2 separate regions of the Homo sapiens genome follow, and region 1 is linked to region 2. A link means that fine-mapping ties the variant in region 2 to the expression of a gene that starts in the linked region. Tissue or cell type: coronary artery. Region 2 holds a variant in brackets; the other region holds the start of a gene. All regions are shown on one strand. Distances are from middle to middle.

Region 1 (8,107 bases), 82 kb after region 2:
TTGAAGGTCTACAATGTATCAGACCCTGTGTTAGTCCTCAGCATAGAGCCTAAGGGAGTTCAACACTTCTGACAAGGAAATGACTGGTAGGGGCAAGCGGAGAGGAAACAGGCCCTTAATTCACTGAATGACTTGATGAACTAGGAAGAGGAGCCGTATTTTATATCAGTTTCTTTTATAGAGTCTCAATATCAAATATACACAATTAAAAAGAAGAACCATAGGAAGTCCTTTTTTCGCAGACTTCTCCCATCTGATACAGAGATAAGTCCTATCAATTGTTCCCCTTAGAATCTCAGAGTCAGGGCAGGCAACCCTGATAATCCGCCAATGATGTCATCTCAGTCCATGCATCTTAAACTTTTGATTTGCTAGGGCGGCACTGTTCCCTTTTCTGTTCTTCCTCCCACCCCCACACATACATGCACAGAAGCTTTTTCCAGTGAGACTGGATACACTGGTGAATTGCAGCAACCCCTTCCTTTCAGCCAGCACAGATACAACACACACCCTGGATATGTGTAATTATAACTGCCAATACTTCAACCTAACAGGTTGGCAGCCAGTGCAGCCAAACATAAGCTCATGAAGTGCTTATTCAATAAAGAAATAGTGTTGGTTATGAACAATTTCAGAGCTGCAGGGACCCAAACTAACGTTTATTAGATAAGATAGACAAGCGGTTGTGAAGTTCCAGGGCGGGGGGGTCTTCTATTTGATACATCTGAAAGCCACCCATTACAATAACCTAGCTCCCAACAGACTACTGAGTGGACTCTTGATCGTCAATCCAACTAAGCAGATATTTCTGCTGTGCAATGGTAGACAGAGACCTGAACTAAGGAGCCAGAAGACTTGGCTTCAAGTTCCAGCTCTTCCATTAATTGCATTTGTGGACAAGTCACTTAACTACCCCATTCCCTGAACATTCTGGATGTTTATGTTTTGTTCAAACCCATGATCACAGGCCCCCAGCCAACTGTTTTGCAAATTCATGGTCAGAAAAGAGTAGAAATGAATCAGTATAATGATGAATCAAGAGTATCATGTTGATGTAGGAAGGATGGCATCGCGATTAATCAAACACTTTGCTTTCCAACTATGCCTTGCCATTCACCAAAATACTTCCTTTTAGTTTTCAGAAAGAAAATAATCCTGTAGGGGAAAAAAAATTCCTAGCAAACCTAGCCCAGGTAAGTCTCTGTTCTCGTTCTCCCAGACATCTCCTCCTCTCTGCTCCCATGGTCACCTATTGCCGGTGCCCTCAGCTGCTATGTGGACTAGTGCAACAGGTTCCTAACTGGCCCTGCTGTCTCCACTCTTCCTCCTCTCTAGTCATCTTACTCTGCCACGATGTGACGATCATTTCCATTGAATTGCTTTAATCACAACACACCTCCCCCCACCCCCCACAAAAACCTCCCACAGCTACCCTTGGATACCAAGTCAAGTCCAAATCCCTTAATCCAACCCTCTAATATCTCATTCCAACCTGCTTTTCTGGTTGGACTTCCTGTTGTGCTGCTTGCCTTCCCACCTCTGTGCATTTGCTGACATCAACTGCAGTATCTTTCTCTCCATCTCTGCCCAGCAGACTCCTCATTCTCCCAATGCCAAACTCAAATTTTTTTCTCCTCTATGAAGTCTTCACATTTTCTCCTCCTCATCGCTCATCAGAAGGGTACATTTCTAGAGCACATTATCCATGACAATCACATGCTACCTTGTGTGTTATGGTCATGGACATATTAGTCTTACTCTTCTATTACTCTGTAAGCTCCTGGGGCACAGGGACCATGCCCCTTCCATCCTGGCATTGTCCTCAGCATCGTGCACACAGTGGGGACTTAATGTAGCCTGACTAAATTAGTGTCAAATGGATGCAGGGAGGCAGCATGATGTAACAGAAAGACTATGAGATTTGGAGTCAGAAGGCCAGGTAGTGGAGCTCAGCTCGGTCACTGACAAGAGGTGTCATCACTCTGAGCCCAATTCTGCATCTGTAAAACAGGCACAATGCTTCCTGTCCTATGGACCTTACAGGGCAGGAGGCAGGAGCTTAAAAAATCTAATGTGCATATACTAGGTGCTTAGCAGAAGAGCCACAATACTTAAACCAGCCTTTGAAGTTCTGCCCCCCACCCCTCTGGACATATTTTATCCCATCCAAAGGAAGATTTCCACACTACTTTGTAGAGAAGAGGGTGAAGTGGGGGAGAAACTGAGTCATTAAGACTCAGAGGAGAACTGTTTACAGACTGCAGGCCAGATGTTGATGAGGGCAAGCAGAGGTGGGGAGGAAAAAGGGCCTTAACTAAATGTCATGGTCCCACCCATGAGTCCCTCTGCAGAGGAAGAGAAGGGAACTCTATTTCCAGGCAGAGGCAAAATGAGTACTGGCCTAGAGGCCTAGGTAATAAGGATGATTCCGTTCGGCTTGTCGGCTGCCAGGTGAGCCTTCCACCTCTGGCCTCCCAGGTGAGTGACAGTGTCAAGGCAAAATCCTTTGACTATTAGCCGCCAAGACTAAACTATGCGGTCAAGACCGACTCTCCCAAATGTGGGCTGTTTGTCTAATTCAGAGCCAAGGCGATATCAAAGATGCCACTGTGCCCACTGAATGAGGAACACAGGGACCGTCCCCCCAATACAGAAACATCTCTGCTTCCTGAAATGCCATCACTACCAATTCATTCTTTCAGGCTTGGTTTCCAGTTCAAATGCAGGTACCTCTGAGCTCGGTGGAAGCTTTAAGGCTGCATTTACACCTTTAGATCTTTTCCTAAGGAGCAGCTGTTGATGTGGGAGAAGGTGGAAAAGGCCCAAATAAATGAGGCCAGTGGGGTGAAGCGGTAGGCTGAGGGGGCCGTTCTCAGCTTGGGGAGGGGAAGCTGCAGCCTCTGTCGGAGCCTGAAGTCAAGCTTCATTTAAGTTGGGGAGATGTGTGGGCAAAAATCTGCGGCCTTTTCGTATCGATGGATCGGGTCCTTTCCCCACACCAAGCACTTTCTTCTCGGGGCTTGGGTCACACAGACAAAAACACCTTTAAAAGGGTCTCTCTCTTCCTAAGCCAGCCTAAGCAAAAGTTTCCAAATTGGAGGACGGTGGAAATGGTTAGGACTCATCTCTCTGGAGAGCTTTTCATTCCTTTCCTCCAAATCCTTTGCTGCATTCCACCTCCTCGCCCGGTCCAATCCGGAAAGCCTCTCGGACCAGGGCTGCGGACCACAAAACTGCATCTTGCAGGGCGGTAACCCCAAGAGAACGTGAAAAGCATTGGGGCTGCACTCTGGGGGCCATAGAGGTGGCCCACCGCCCCGAGGGGTCCCCAGGTGATCGACAAGGGGGCCGTCCCTACTCCAGGGCCCCGAGTCCAGGCAGCAGGGCGGCGTCGGGCCGCGGCTCCCCCACCCCACCCCCGTCCGGTCTCCCGGTTCCCCGGCCCCGCCCGGCTCTTACTTGCGGTAGGCGGCGAGCTGCACGGCGCTGCAGGGGAAGAGGCGCAGGCACGCCACCGCGTTCCCCTTCCACAGGGCCCGGAGCCCCTCTGCCCGCCACACCCGGTGCCCTGTGGCCCACGGTCCCCGGGCGTGGCCTCGCACGACGCCAACCTGGGCCAGCACGGTGGCGAGCTCCAGGGGCGCGGTGAGGCTGAGGCTGAGCGTCCCCGCCAGCCCAGCGCACAGCAGCCTTTGGCCGCCTGTCAGTCGGCCGTCCCGCCTCCACGTAGCCATCGAGCCCCGACCCGGGCCCGGAAGACCGCGTGGCTCGGGCCTGGGGCTCTCCGGCCACGGGCGGAGGTGGCGGGCCCCAGGCCCCGCCCGGCATGGGGCGGGCCCGCGTGAGGGACGGGAAGCCCCGTCTACGCCCTAGCCTGGCCCGAGGCTGGTCGGGGGTGGGGCGCGAGGGCCTGGAGGGTCCGGGGTCCGAGGCCGCGGATATCATGGGCATAGTCTCCCCAGTTGGCAAGGCTCGAGTAGCGACTTTCAGTTGCGAAACAGTTACTGTTCTCTCAAGGCCCAGCCTGCTAGACATCTTGCTTCCTAAATGTTCAGTGCGCCCCCGCCGCCCCTCCCTGCCTCTCCTCTGGTTTGCCCCTTTTCTCCCTTTCACGTGCCACTTCTCTGTCTTCCTCCCCTGGCGCTTCCCTCCTCCTCCTCTTGCCTCCAACCCATTTTTTTTTCCTGCCTAACCAAAAAGCCTTGATGGTTTCCCAGTGCAGAAGGTAAAAAATTCTAACAACCACAGTTGCTATCTCTCAGGCACTTGTCAAGTACTGGGCTTTACAGACGTTCTCATGTAATCCTCAAAACGGCCCTAAGTACGTATGTCCTCATTGACAGAGGCTGTGTGGGTGTGGGGACTTGAATCTGGACTCTTGAACCTGTGTAAGATTCTTGGCTCTGCAGCTTACCAGCTGTGGGACCTTGGGGAAGTCACTCAACCTCTCTGTGTGTCAGTTGCTTTATAAAACAGAGATTATAATTTTTTCCTCCTAGGGGTTGTTGTAAGGATTAATGAACAATGACTGGTATGGGTAAGCAGTTTATATGTGTTAGTTCTGATTAGGTATTCATTTACAGGAGAGGAAACCAAGACACAGAGAGGACTTGCTCAGGCTCACACAGCTACCTACAAAGCAGAGACCGGTTTGAAATCTAGGGCGGTTTATGTCAGTTTCCACTAACGGCTACACTATATGTCTACTAGGACTGCAGAGTTAACTCCAGTAGGGACATTTTCAGTGGTTCTGTAAGCTAAGAGAACAATAGAGGCAAAGAATGGCTAAGAGAGGCTTGGCCAGAATCCGAGGATTCTTTAATCAGTTCAAAAATTTCAGAATTTCAGAATTTCTTTCTGTCTCTTTTTTTTCTAAAAAAGCCATGTCACTAATAATTACAAGGAAAGGAACTGTCAGCAGTCTGTTGGTGTGAGCAAGATGTTCCGGGTACATAGTTGTTTTTAGGCTTGTATAGTTATTTACATTTACTAACACACAATGCTATAGGAACGTTTTCTAAAAGGCATTGCAGGGTTTCTCCTTTTTTATTTTTCACTGTCAATCTCACTTGAGTATGACATTACAAGGTTTTGACTGTGAGAACTTGTTCTAGTTGCAGAAGCCATACTCTGCTCTCAACAATTGGGGAATGCTTATTTTCATGTTTTGTGAATTCTTCTGTCTTGTTGTAAGCTAATTTGATGGCTGGGGGAAGCTTGAGAAAGATGTATGACTCTGAAGACCGGAGGACCCCGACTTTAAAAGGGCTTGAATTGGAATTTGGGGATTACAATAAGGAAACCTTCGGGTACTGGTACTTCCTAAAGCCCTTTGTTGGATAACGGGACAAGATTCTAAAGCTCTTTCAGGAAGTTCGTGGGTCTGGAACATTTCATGTGATAACCCCATTGTATGGAGATTGGGTCAGCCAAGTTATGTTTTTTTTTTTTTTGAGACAGAGTCTCGCTCTGTCGCCCAGGGTGAAGTGCAGTGGCATGGTCTTGGCTCACTGTAACCTCTGCCTCCTAGGTTCAAGCGATTCTCCTGCCTCAGCCTCCTAAGTAGCTGGGACTACAGGCATGTGCCACCATACCCAACTAATTTTTTTGTATTTTCAGTAGAGATGGGGTTCGCCATGTTGGCCAGGCTGGTCTCGAATTCCTGACCTCAGATGATCCACCTGCCTCGGCCTCCCAAAGTGCCGAAATTACAGGCATGAGCCACCGCGCCTGGCCTATTTTAACCTTGAAAGTAAAATGTATGGCCGGGCGCGGTGGCTCACGCCTATAATCCCAGCACTTTGGGAGGCTGAGGCGGGCGGATCACGAGGTCAGGAGATCGAGACCATCCTGGCTAACACGGTGAAACCCCGTCTCTACTGAAAATACAAAAAATTAGCCGGGCGAGGTGGCGGGCGCCTGTAGTCCCACCTACTTGGGAGGCTGAGGCAGGAGAATGGCGTGAACCCTGGAGGGCGGAGCCTGCAGTGAGCCGAGATCACGCCACTGCACTCCAGCCTGGGTGACAGCGAGACTCCGTCTCAAAAAAAAAGAAAGTAAAATGTATATTTTTCACTGCAGGTACACTGAAGCATAAAATGAATAACACCAAACTATATATTGGATGCCTTCTGTCTTTTCATGATCATGTGCTAACCAGGTGTTCATATTTTACTCAGCCAGAGTCTCATTCATCTGCTTAGCATTGGGCACCTTATGTATATTCATCCTAAACATAAATAAATCTCCGAGGATATCCTGTATTTGGATTGTGACTTGTATACTCAAGCCAACCTTATTGCCTCTTTTTCACACTTGTTGAAAAGTCTGTGGAGAGCATAGTAGGTTAACAAGCTCCAACTTTGGAAAATGTACATGATGTGAAATTGGGGTGCTATGCTAAAAATAAATGTATGATAACTAAAAAGGAAGAGGCAGTGAGTAAAAAAAAAAATCTTAGAAGTTATGTTGCAATATAAGGAGAAAGGTGGCCAGCTGAGAGTTAAGCCCTAGGCAGCCTCTCGTTGCCCCAGTCAGGGCTTGGGAGATGCTAACAGTTTTTTAAATTCTCCAGCTTTCATTTTTCAGTTTATCTTCTCACCAACTGAAATCTCTCAGTACATTACTTTAGTTTAACTTGCTAGTATTTCTTAGAATATAATTTATCTTGTTATATTTATACTAATGTTGATTGATTCCTGCTCTCCTAATTTTCTTTTATTTTTTACTTTTTGGGAAATTTGTAAATTATAAAGTAGTTTATACCTGTTGTAACAAGACAAATAGTCCAGAAGTGTATTAAAGAAAGTTAAGTTCCCCTGCCCATGCCCTGAGGTAACCACGGTTAAGAGCTTGGTGCGTGTGTGAATGTTTTTCCTCATATTTTTTTTTCATGCTCAGACCAATAAATATTTATATGGGGTTGCTTTCTCCTCCTTTCCGCTCTTCCCTCCTTCTTACCTTCCTTCTTTCCTTCCTTTGAAACAGAAAAGAAATAATTCCTCTGGAAGGATACCCAAAAAACTGATAATCAGGTTATCTTTGGGGAAGGAAACCTGGAGACTTGGGAACAGAGGTGGAAGGGAGATTGAGTTTTGACTGTGTGCCCTTTTATTTTCTTTTATTATTTATTGATTTATTTAGTTAGTTTTGAGACAGAGTCTCGCTCTGTTGCCCAGGCTGGAGTACAGTGGCACGATCTCAGCTCACTGCAACCTCTGCCTCCCAGGTTCAAGCAATTCTCATGCCTCCCCAGTAGCTGGGACTACAAGCAGCCACCACCTCACCAATCTAATTTTTTTTTTTTTTTTTTTTTGAGACGGAGTCTTGCTCTGTCACCCAGGCTGGAGTGCAGTGGCGCAATCTTGGCTCACTGCAAGCTCCGCCTCACAGGTTCATGCCATTGTCCTGCCTCAGCCTTCAGAGTAGCTGGGACTACAGACGCCCGCCACCGCACCTGGCTAATTTTTTTGCATTTTTAGTAAAGACGGGGTTTCACCGTGTTAGCCAGGAGGGTCTCTATCTCCCGACCTCGTGATCCACCTGCCTTGGCCTCCCAAAGTGCTGGGATTACAGGCATGAGCCACCGTGCCCGGCCCTAATTTTTGTATTTTTAGTACAGACGGAATTTCACCATGTTGGCCAGGCTGGTCTCAAACTACTGACCTCAAGTGATCTGCCCCCTTTGGCCTCCCAAGGTGCCAGGATTACAGGCGTGAGCCACCGCACCCAACCCTGTGTGCCTTTTTATACTGTTTACCTTTTTCTCCTGTTTTTTTTTTTTGTTGTTGTTTTGTTTTGTTTTGCCGTGGCCATGTATCATCAATTTAAAAAATTCTCTTCTCCATCAATTTTCTCTGAAGGTGCAGTGTTTTCTGTGACATTGCCTTGCCATTGGTGAGATTTTTTTCCTTTTAATGACACATCTTTATTTCCTTGGCAACTTTTTTTTTTTTTTTTTTTTTTTTTTTTTAGATGGAGTCTCACTCTGTTGTGCAGGCTGGAGTGCAGTGGCGCGATCTCGGTTTACTGCAACCTCTGCCTCCTGAGTTCCAGCGATTCTCCTGCCTCAGCCTCCTGAGTAGCTGGGGTTATAGGCGCCCACCAC
Region 2 (8,107 bases):
GTCAGATGTTCTGGCACTCTTAACTCTCATGTTTATATATGGATCCTATCACTCAGGAAACATTTCCATTCTCCTCAAGAAACATTAACTGGGTGCCTCCTATATATTTTAGCAGTGGTAAACATAATGAAACTTTGTGGTGCCTCTTTCAGTTACAACAGCTTTCATAACTATTTTATCATTTGGTTTTCACAAAACACCATCACTTCCATTTTATGCTTCAATTTAAAAAAATATAATGTATACCCCAGCTAGAATAGCTATTGTCAAAAAGACAAAAAAAAAAAAATGCTAGGGAGGATGCAGAGAAAAGGGGACTTGTACATTGTTGATGAGAATGTAAATCAGTACAGCCATTATGGAAAATGGTATGAAGGTTTCTTAAAAAAAAAAAAACAAACTACAAATAGGACTACCATATGATCCAGCAATTCCACTCACTACTGGATATATACCCCCAAAAAGGAAATCAGTGTATTGAGATACCTGCCTCCCCATGTTTATTGCAGCACTATTTACAATAGCTAAGATATGGAATCTATCTTAGTGTCCATCAATGGATGAATGGATAGAGAAAATGTCACACAGACACAGCAGAATATTATTCAGCCATAAAAAAGAATGAGATCTTGTCATTCATGACAAGATGGATGAGCCTGGAGGACATTATGTTAAGTGAAATAAGTCAGGCATGTTCTGCATGTTCTCACTTATATGTGGGAGCTAAAAAAAACTCCTGAGCTCATAGAAGTAGAGAGTAGAATTATGATTATTAGAGGCTGGGAAAGGTAGAGGGGAGGGGAGGATAGGGAGAGGTTGGTTACAAAGTTACAGCTAAATCGAAGGAATAAAGCTGGGTGCAGTGGCTCATGCCTGTAATCCCAGCACTTTGGGAGGCTGAGGTAGGTGGATCACTTGAGGTCAGGAGTTCGAGGCCATCCTGGCCAACCTGGTGAAACCCCATCTCTACTAAAAATACAAAATTAGCTGGGTGTGGTGGTGAGCGCCTGTAATCCCAGCTACTCATGAGGCTGAGGCTGGAGAATCGCTTGAACCCAGAAGGTGGAGGTTGCAGTGAGCCGAGATGGCACCACTGCACTCCAGCCTGGGCAACAGAGCGAGATTCTATCTAAAAAAAAAAAAAAAAAATGTGTACTGTTAAAAATGTAATTTAAATTACTTACTTCATGGATAAGTATGTTCTCATGAACATTAAAACATTATAAATCTGGCTATCATTGTAGATCTGACCACCGCTACCCTACTCCAGACTCCCTCAGAGATACAGAAGAGGAAACTGAGACTCAAAGAAGTGACATGGTGTGCCCAAGGCCACACAGCTAGTGCCTGTGGGGGATTTTCTGATTCTAAATCTCTCTCTGTTTTTTTTCTTTTTTGAGACGGAGTCTCACTCAGTCGCCCAGGCTGGAGTGCAGTGGTGCAATCTTGGCTTACTGCAACCTCCACTTCCCGGGGTTCAAGCAATTCTCCTGCCTCAGCCTCCCAAGTAGCTGAGACTACAGGCATGCGCCACCACGCCCTGCTAATTTTTTTTTTTTTTTTTTTTTTTTTAGTAGAGACAGGATTTTACCTTGTTGGTCAAGCTGGTCTCGAACTCCAGACCTCAAATAATCCACCCACCTTGGCCTCCCAAAGTGTTGGGATTACCGGCGTGAGCCACCGCGCCCAGCCTGACTTTAAATCTCTTGCTATTCTAATTTTTCTACACTGCCTCCCATCACCACAAGAATCCTTTCTATTCCTCACTGTGTCCCTGGTGCCCAGCACAGGGCTCTGCACCAAAGCTGGGGCTCAGCAAATATTTCCATATCAATGGATTCCCTGGCAGAGGGTTTCCTTTGCACGAAGGCATTGCCTTCTGAGGTGGGCTACACCGACCTCATTTGGTCAGTGAAGGCTCGAAGTGGCAACTGAGGCCATGCAGGCATCCTCCCAGGTGTCCCTTCTGCCACCCCAGGGCTTGGCGACATCAGGGATCCTGAGAGTCTCCTTTGGGAGCCAATACAGTGAGACCCAGTAGAGGTACACCAGGTGTTTGCTGGGCACACGCTATGTGGCTGCCGGTATGCCAATGGCCGTGTGTGACTCGGGGGAGAAATGCAAAGTATGATATTGTTGAGCCAAGATTTGTCCCATACGTAGGACACAGTGACCAGCCAGCACATATCCAAGTTCTAAATTATGCAGTGCTGATGATGCTTTGGGGGTTCAGGGGAGGAAGAGCTTGGCTGGAGCGGCCAGGGTAGACTTCTTGGGGGCGGTGGGTTTAGCTGAGCTTGGTGGAAAGCGGTCTGCGTGGAGGACACAGCTCTTCCAGCGGAGTCGGCCGCGGTGCCCAGGCCGAGGCGAGAAGCAGCGCGCCCTCTGCAGGCAGGTGCGAGAGGCGGCCGGAGACCCGCCTGGGCACGTGGACTGGAAAAGGAAGGAGTCGGCCATCGGCTGCTGCCGCTGCGGCTGCGCTGCGACTTTTTCAGCCTGTCTGTCTCAATCCAGCCTTGCACTTCGGCGACTTTCAACCGCCATTAGGCCTGCAAAAGCCGCGTTTTTTCCCTCAGGGCGTGCCCTGCCCTCCTCTCTCCTAGTTGTCTGCAGCTCCCCGCCTGGCGGGCCGGGCCATTTCCTTCTGCTGCTACTCGGCATAGTCCTAGCGGACTGTTTTAGCCACCGCGCTGAGAGCGCTCTTTACAAAGTTTCCCAGATTACAAAACCGGCGCCTAAAGGGAAGGGGCCGACTCTGAGAGAGCCCGTAGTTATTTAACAAACACTTAAGCGCATATTATATGCTAGGCTTTGTGCCAAGCGCCTCGCAAATATTAATTTATTTCATCCTCACTACAGTGCCAGGCAAGTAGTGTTCTTGACCCCATTTTCCGGCTGAGCAAGGTGAGGCAGTGAGACTTAGAATCTTGCTCACCATTTCACAGCTGGAAAGGGGCGGAACCATGCTCTTAACCACTGCACCAAGCGCCTCTCCAGGGGCTCCTCACATGGGTAGGTCCCCAAGCAGGCCGATGGTCCCTAAAGAGCTTGAACCCCTCCCTTCCTCTGGGCCTCCGTGGTTATTTTCCAGGCACCGCAGCATTAAGTGCTACTTTCTGACTCTCTCTAAGTTGGGGGGGGGTTCCCTTTGTTTTCAGGGTTTTCATCTGCAGGTGTTACACGTGGTTTGCCAGGTGCCTCGGTTTCCTCATCTGGGAAATGGTAATCTTAGCACCTGCATCATAAGGCCACTGAAAGGATTAAATGAGTATCCACAATTAAAAGAGTGCCTGGCCCATAGTCAAAGCTCAAGAAATGACAATGGATGTTACTACTGAGCAAGTCCGCTGCTGCACTCCTGGAGGCCTCCCACTCACAAGTGAGAGAGAACAAACTCTGCCTGCTTCCTGAGCACGTCAAAAAGGGCCACATTCACTCAAGGGTTCTCATGGGCTTTTAGTGGCTGAAATAGTCTTAGAAGCTGGGAACATTAGGCCCAGGTCTGGGAGCAGGTCTGGCCTAATCAGCCCTAATCAGTCACATGGGCGTGCAGTTGGCACAGCTCTATCGGCAGCGTCCTCAGGTGCCCCAGGAACATGTCTGTTCCTCTCCCCTTGGAGTGGCCTGAGTCATGTTGTGTGACAGCCACTGTTCAATATTGTCATCATCACAACCAGACATCCATCAGGCAATTACTATGTGGAGGGCTCTGTGTTAGGGGCTCATGACAAGATGGCCAGCACATGTGTGGCACAGGCCAGCATCCCATGAACACAGTATGGTAGAAGCCCTGGATGTGGAGTCAGCTGTTTTTCACACAGATTTCAGGAGGGGAGGGGTGTGTGCCAAGGTCCCGCCTCTCTGGTTCTCTAGCATGGACAACATAGCAGCAGTACAGGAACCAGTTGATTTCCCAACCCCTGCAATATCCAGATCTTCCCTGTAAGCCCAGGGTCTGGAAAAACAATAGCTGCAAGTCAAAAGGCCCCGGACATTTGCTGAATTATTATGTAAGAAAATGAAAAAGAAAGGCCCTGTACATTTATTGCTACAGAATTGTTCCCAGGTATCAAGTGGCTGGATCGAGCCAAAATTCATTCATGCCAATCAATAACCAATGCACAAACCCTACAACATGCCATTCATTCATTCTCTATTTATTTCGTTATACAGATATTTATTTATTTATTTTTGAGACAGGGTCTCTCTCTGTCACCCAGGCTGGAGTGCAATGGCTCGATCTCGGCTCACTGCAACCTACACCTCCCGGGTTCAAGCCATTCTCCTGCCTCAGCCTCCCGAGTAGCTGGGACTACAGTGCCCGCCACCACACCTAGCTAATTTTTGTATTTTTAGTAGAGATTGGGTTTCACTATGTTGGCCAGGCTGGTCTCAAACTCCCAATCTCAAGTGATTCGACTGCCTCGGCCTCCCAAAGTGCTGGGATTATAGGCATGAGCCACTGTGCCTGGCTATTTTATTTATTTATTTATTTATTTATTTATTTATTTATTTATTTATTTAGAGATAGAGTCTCTGTCGCCCTGGCTGGAGTGCAGTGGTGCGATCTCAGCTCACTGCAACTTCCACCTCCCGGGCTCAAGCGATTCTCCGGCCTCAGCCTCCTGAGTAGCTGGGACTACAGGCATGTGCCACCACACCCAGCTAATTTTTTGTATTTTTAGTAGTTACGGTGTTTCACCATGTTGGCCAAGCTAGTCTCAA[A/T]CTCCTGACCTCAAATGACCCACCCGCCTCGGCCTCCCAAAGTGGTGGGATGACAGGTGTGAGCCACTGCACTTGGCCCATTTTCTCATTTATCTCCTCCTTCAGCAAACATTTACCACACATTCACTATGTGTTAGGTTCTATGCTCAGTTTTAGGAATGTAAAGAGAAACGAGACATAGCCCTTAATGAGGACAGACAAATAAATACTTGGTTGTGATACCATGAAATAAACATTATAATTCATTCACTTAACAACTATTTCTTGAACATCTACTATGTGCCAGGCACTGTTCTAGACACTGGGGACACATGAATGAAACAGACAAAATATCTGCCTTTGTGAAGCTGACAGAGATAGATTACTTTAGAAGTACAGAGGAGAGAGCAATGAGTATGGGCAGGTGGAGTCTGGGAAGGCTCCCAGAGGTGGTGCAATCTGAGCTGGGTCTTGAAGGATCATGCCCTGGCAGAGGGGCAGGTAAGGGCATGCTGGGAAAAACAATAGTACAGCCAAGCTTGGAAATATGAAAGTGAATGACATAGGTAGGAAATGGCAAGTGGAACTGCAGATCACGTGCAGGAGGAGGAACAGAACATGAGGCGCACAGTACTGTCTCTCAATATAAGGTGCAATCAGATAAAATAGCCCAAAGCCCAACTCATTGCATTTTTCTTTTTCTTTTGTTCTTTTTTTTTCTCGAGACGGAGTCTCGCTCTGTCGCCCAGGCTGGAGTGCAGTGGCGCAATCTTAGCTCGCTGCAAGCTCCGCCTCCTGGGTTCACGCCATTCTCCTGCCTCAGCCTCCCAAGTAACTGGGACTACAGGCACCTGCCACCATGCCCGGCTAATTTTTTGTATTTTTAGTAGAGATGGGGTTTCACCACGTTAGCCAGGATGGTCTCGATCTCCTGACCTCGTGATCTGCCTGCCTCGGCCTCCCAAAGTTTTTTTGAGACTGAGTTTCACTCTGTCACCCAGGCTGAAGTGCAATGGTGCGATCTCAGCTCACTGCAGCCTCCGCCTCCCGGGTTCAAGCGATTCTCCTGCCTCAGCCTCCTGAGTAGCTGGGATTACGGGTGCCCGCTACCACACTCAGCTAATTTTTGTATTTTTAGCAAAGACGGGGTTTCACCACGTTGGCCAGGCTGGTCTCGAACTCCTGACCTCAGGTGATCTGCCCGCCTAGGCTTCCCAAAGTGCTGGGATTACAGGCGTGAGCCACTGTGCCCAGCCTCACTGCATTTTTCTGAGAGCCAACCCTGGTTAGAGGTAAGGGTGCGGCCAACACCAACTCCTCCTGTGGTTGTTAGTTGGTATGGGCCTTACGCAAAGTCCTAATGACCCCAGCCTCAGGCTTGTAACCTTAGAGAGAGGCTCAGTATTCCTTGTGAAGAGCCGTCATTTAAAAGGAAGATCTGTCTTGGAAAAGCCAAAGAAATGTGAATAAATTCAAATTTAACTCTAGAGCTTTAGGGTCAAGTAGTTTTTAATGACCATAATTCTTAAATTGGCTGAAAATAGAAAATAACCCATACTCTAAAAATGGACTTTACAAACAGTGCTTTGGTTATTATAATTTATTTTTTCTTTTGTTATCTCTTTTTTTATCCAACTGAGGTTATTATAATTTCTATTTAATATTTGTCAAATGGATTTTGTCAGTTGGTATTGAAACTAGCCGGCTTTCATATTTTAATATAGTTCATGACCCAAAATAAATAGTTGGACAGGGTCACCTTGAAGTTCTCTTTGAAACCTTTTGCCGAGTCAGATAGCTCAGAGGACATTATCTCATCTCTCTAAGCTTCGGTTTCATAGCTGTGAAATGGAGTGAATAATAATACCTGCCTCTTAGGGCTGTTGAGACAATAGGGACAGTTAATCCATGTAAAGTGCTTAGCACAACATCTGGCATATAAGATGTCAAAATAATGAGCTATGATCTTGATTCTGTAGTTTTAGAGAAATTACTGTTACCTGGTTGTATCGATTGTTTAACCTGAAGACGCAGGCTTAACTTAATTCAATCTATCTAGCCCTAGAAACTCCAAAAAGAACCACAGCCCACAGTAGATTTGAGGAATTATATTGTAGCTTAAAAAGGAAAGTTGATTTCCAGGTTTCCTGGTAGACAAACTGAGCCACTAACTAGTGACGGGATGTGATATGACCCAAGACAAAGAAACATGGAGCCGAAGTGGGATTACAATTTCAGTGGTCAAACTCCTAGCTTTCTACCCTAATTGGCAAACAGCACGCTTTTACCCAGAAGCCCAAGCGTCCTTACCCCCTGATCTTCACTTCTGGGATAAAGCCATTATGAAGCTCAATTTTTGTAATAAATGGACTCCTGAACCCTGGACTTAGTTGTGAAAGTGAAAGGAGATCCTTTGCTTCTAAAGGTCTCAGTAAATTTTCTCCTCCCTGCAGCTTCTTTCCCTAGGGAGTGAAGTCATAGGGTTGGGTAATCAGGCTGGGACCTCATGGGTTCCTTGAAATACTACGAGAGCAAAGGAAGCTGTGAGAAGAATCCTGGTGACCACACAGTGGCCCCTGGGTCAGGTGAGCAGTGCAGTCTGGTTGTGAGGCAGGACGGATTTATCTTTGACCTTTGGTCTCTTTCATAATCAGTGTTGTAAAATAAGTGCTCTGAGTTAGAGCTCAGGATTATCACCATAAGCACATGTTTCTATTCATTCAGTCCATTCCAAAAATGTCCTTTTCTTTCTTTACAACCTTCTCTCTCTCTCTCTGTGTGTGTGTGTGTGATCCACTTTCTATAGTATATATAGCATTTTCTTGAGACTGTTTTAGAAAATCTGCAGGAAAAGGATAAATCCATTAAACCATTCTCCCATGAATGAAGTGAAAATAATTTAAAGCATTTCAATAAAACAATAACAGTCGGGCCAGATGCAGTGGCTCCTGCCTGTAATCCCAGCACTTTGGGAGGCTGAGGCGGTTGGATCACTTGAGGCCAGGAGTTCGAGACCAACCTGGCCAACATGGTGAAACCCCATCTCTACTAAAAATACAAAAATTAGCCAGGTGTGGTGGCTTGCACCTCTTGTCCCAGCTACTCGGGAGACTAAGGCAGGAGAATCGCTTGAACCTGGGGGGTGGAGGTTGCAGTGAGCCAAGTTCGCACCACTGAACTCCAGCCTGGGTGACAGAGCAAGACTCTATCTCAAAAACAAAAACAAAGCAATAACAGTCATAATAAGAGCAAAATTGTGTAAAGCAGGTGCCCAGCATTGTTCTAAGCACTTTACATATATTAACTCCTTTAATCTTCACACTATTCCTATGAGGTAGGTACTAAAGTTATCCCCATATTCCACATGGGGAAACTAAGGCACAAAACAGTTAAGTAAAAGTTG

The links. PIP is the estimated chance that this variant, and not a neighbour inherited with it, causes the effect.
Region 1: SLC25A43 starts here. The variant in region 2 is fine-mapped to the expression of SLC25A43 in coronary artery (GTEx, PIP 0.93).

The regions. Positions count from the first base shown.
Region 1 is chrX:119,395,031-119,403,137 of GRCh38, reverse strand. It overlaps SLC25A43 (solute carrier family 25 member 43), which reads right to left and starts at 3,802. Exons shown (of 5, transcript NM_145305.3): 1 at 3,460-3,802. The coding sequence starts at 3,734. RefSeq lists a silencer at 3,279-3,938.
Region 2 is chrX:119,477,125-119,485,231 of GRCh38, reverse strand. No RefSeq gene overlaps it. Among named protein-coding and RNA genes, the nearest start is that of SLC25A5-AS1, 12 kb to the right of the region's middle. RefSeq lists enhancers at 2,505-2,554, 2,605-2,704. The variant A/T (reference allele first, on the strand shown) is at 4,726.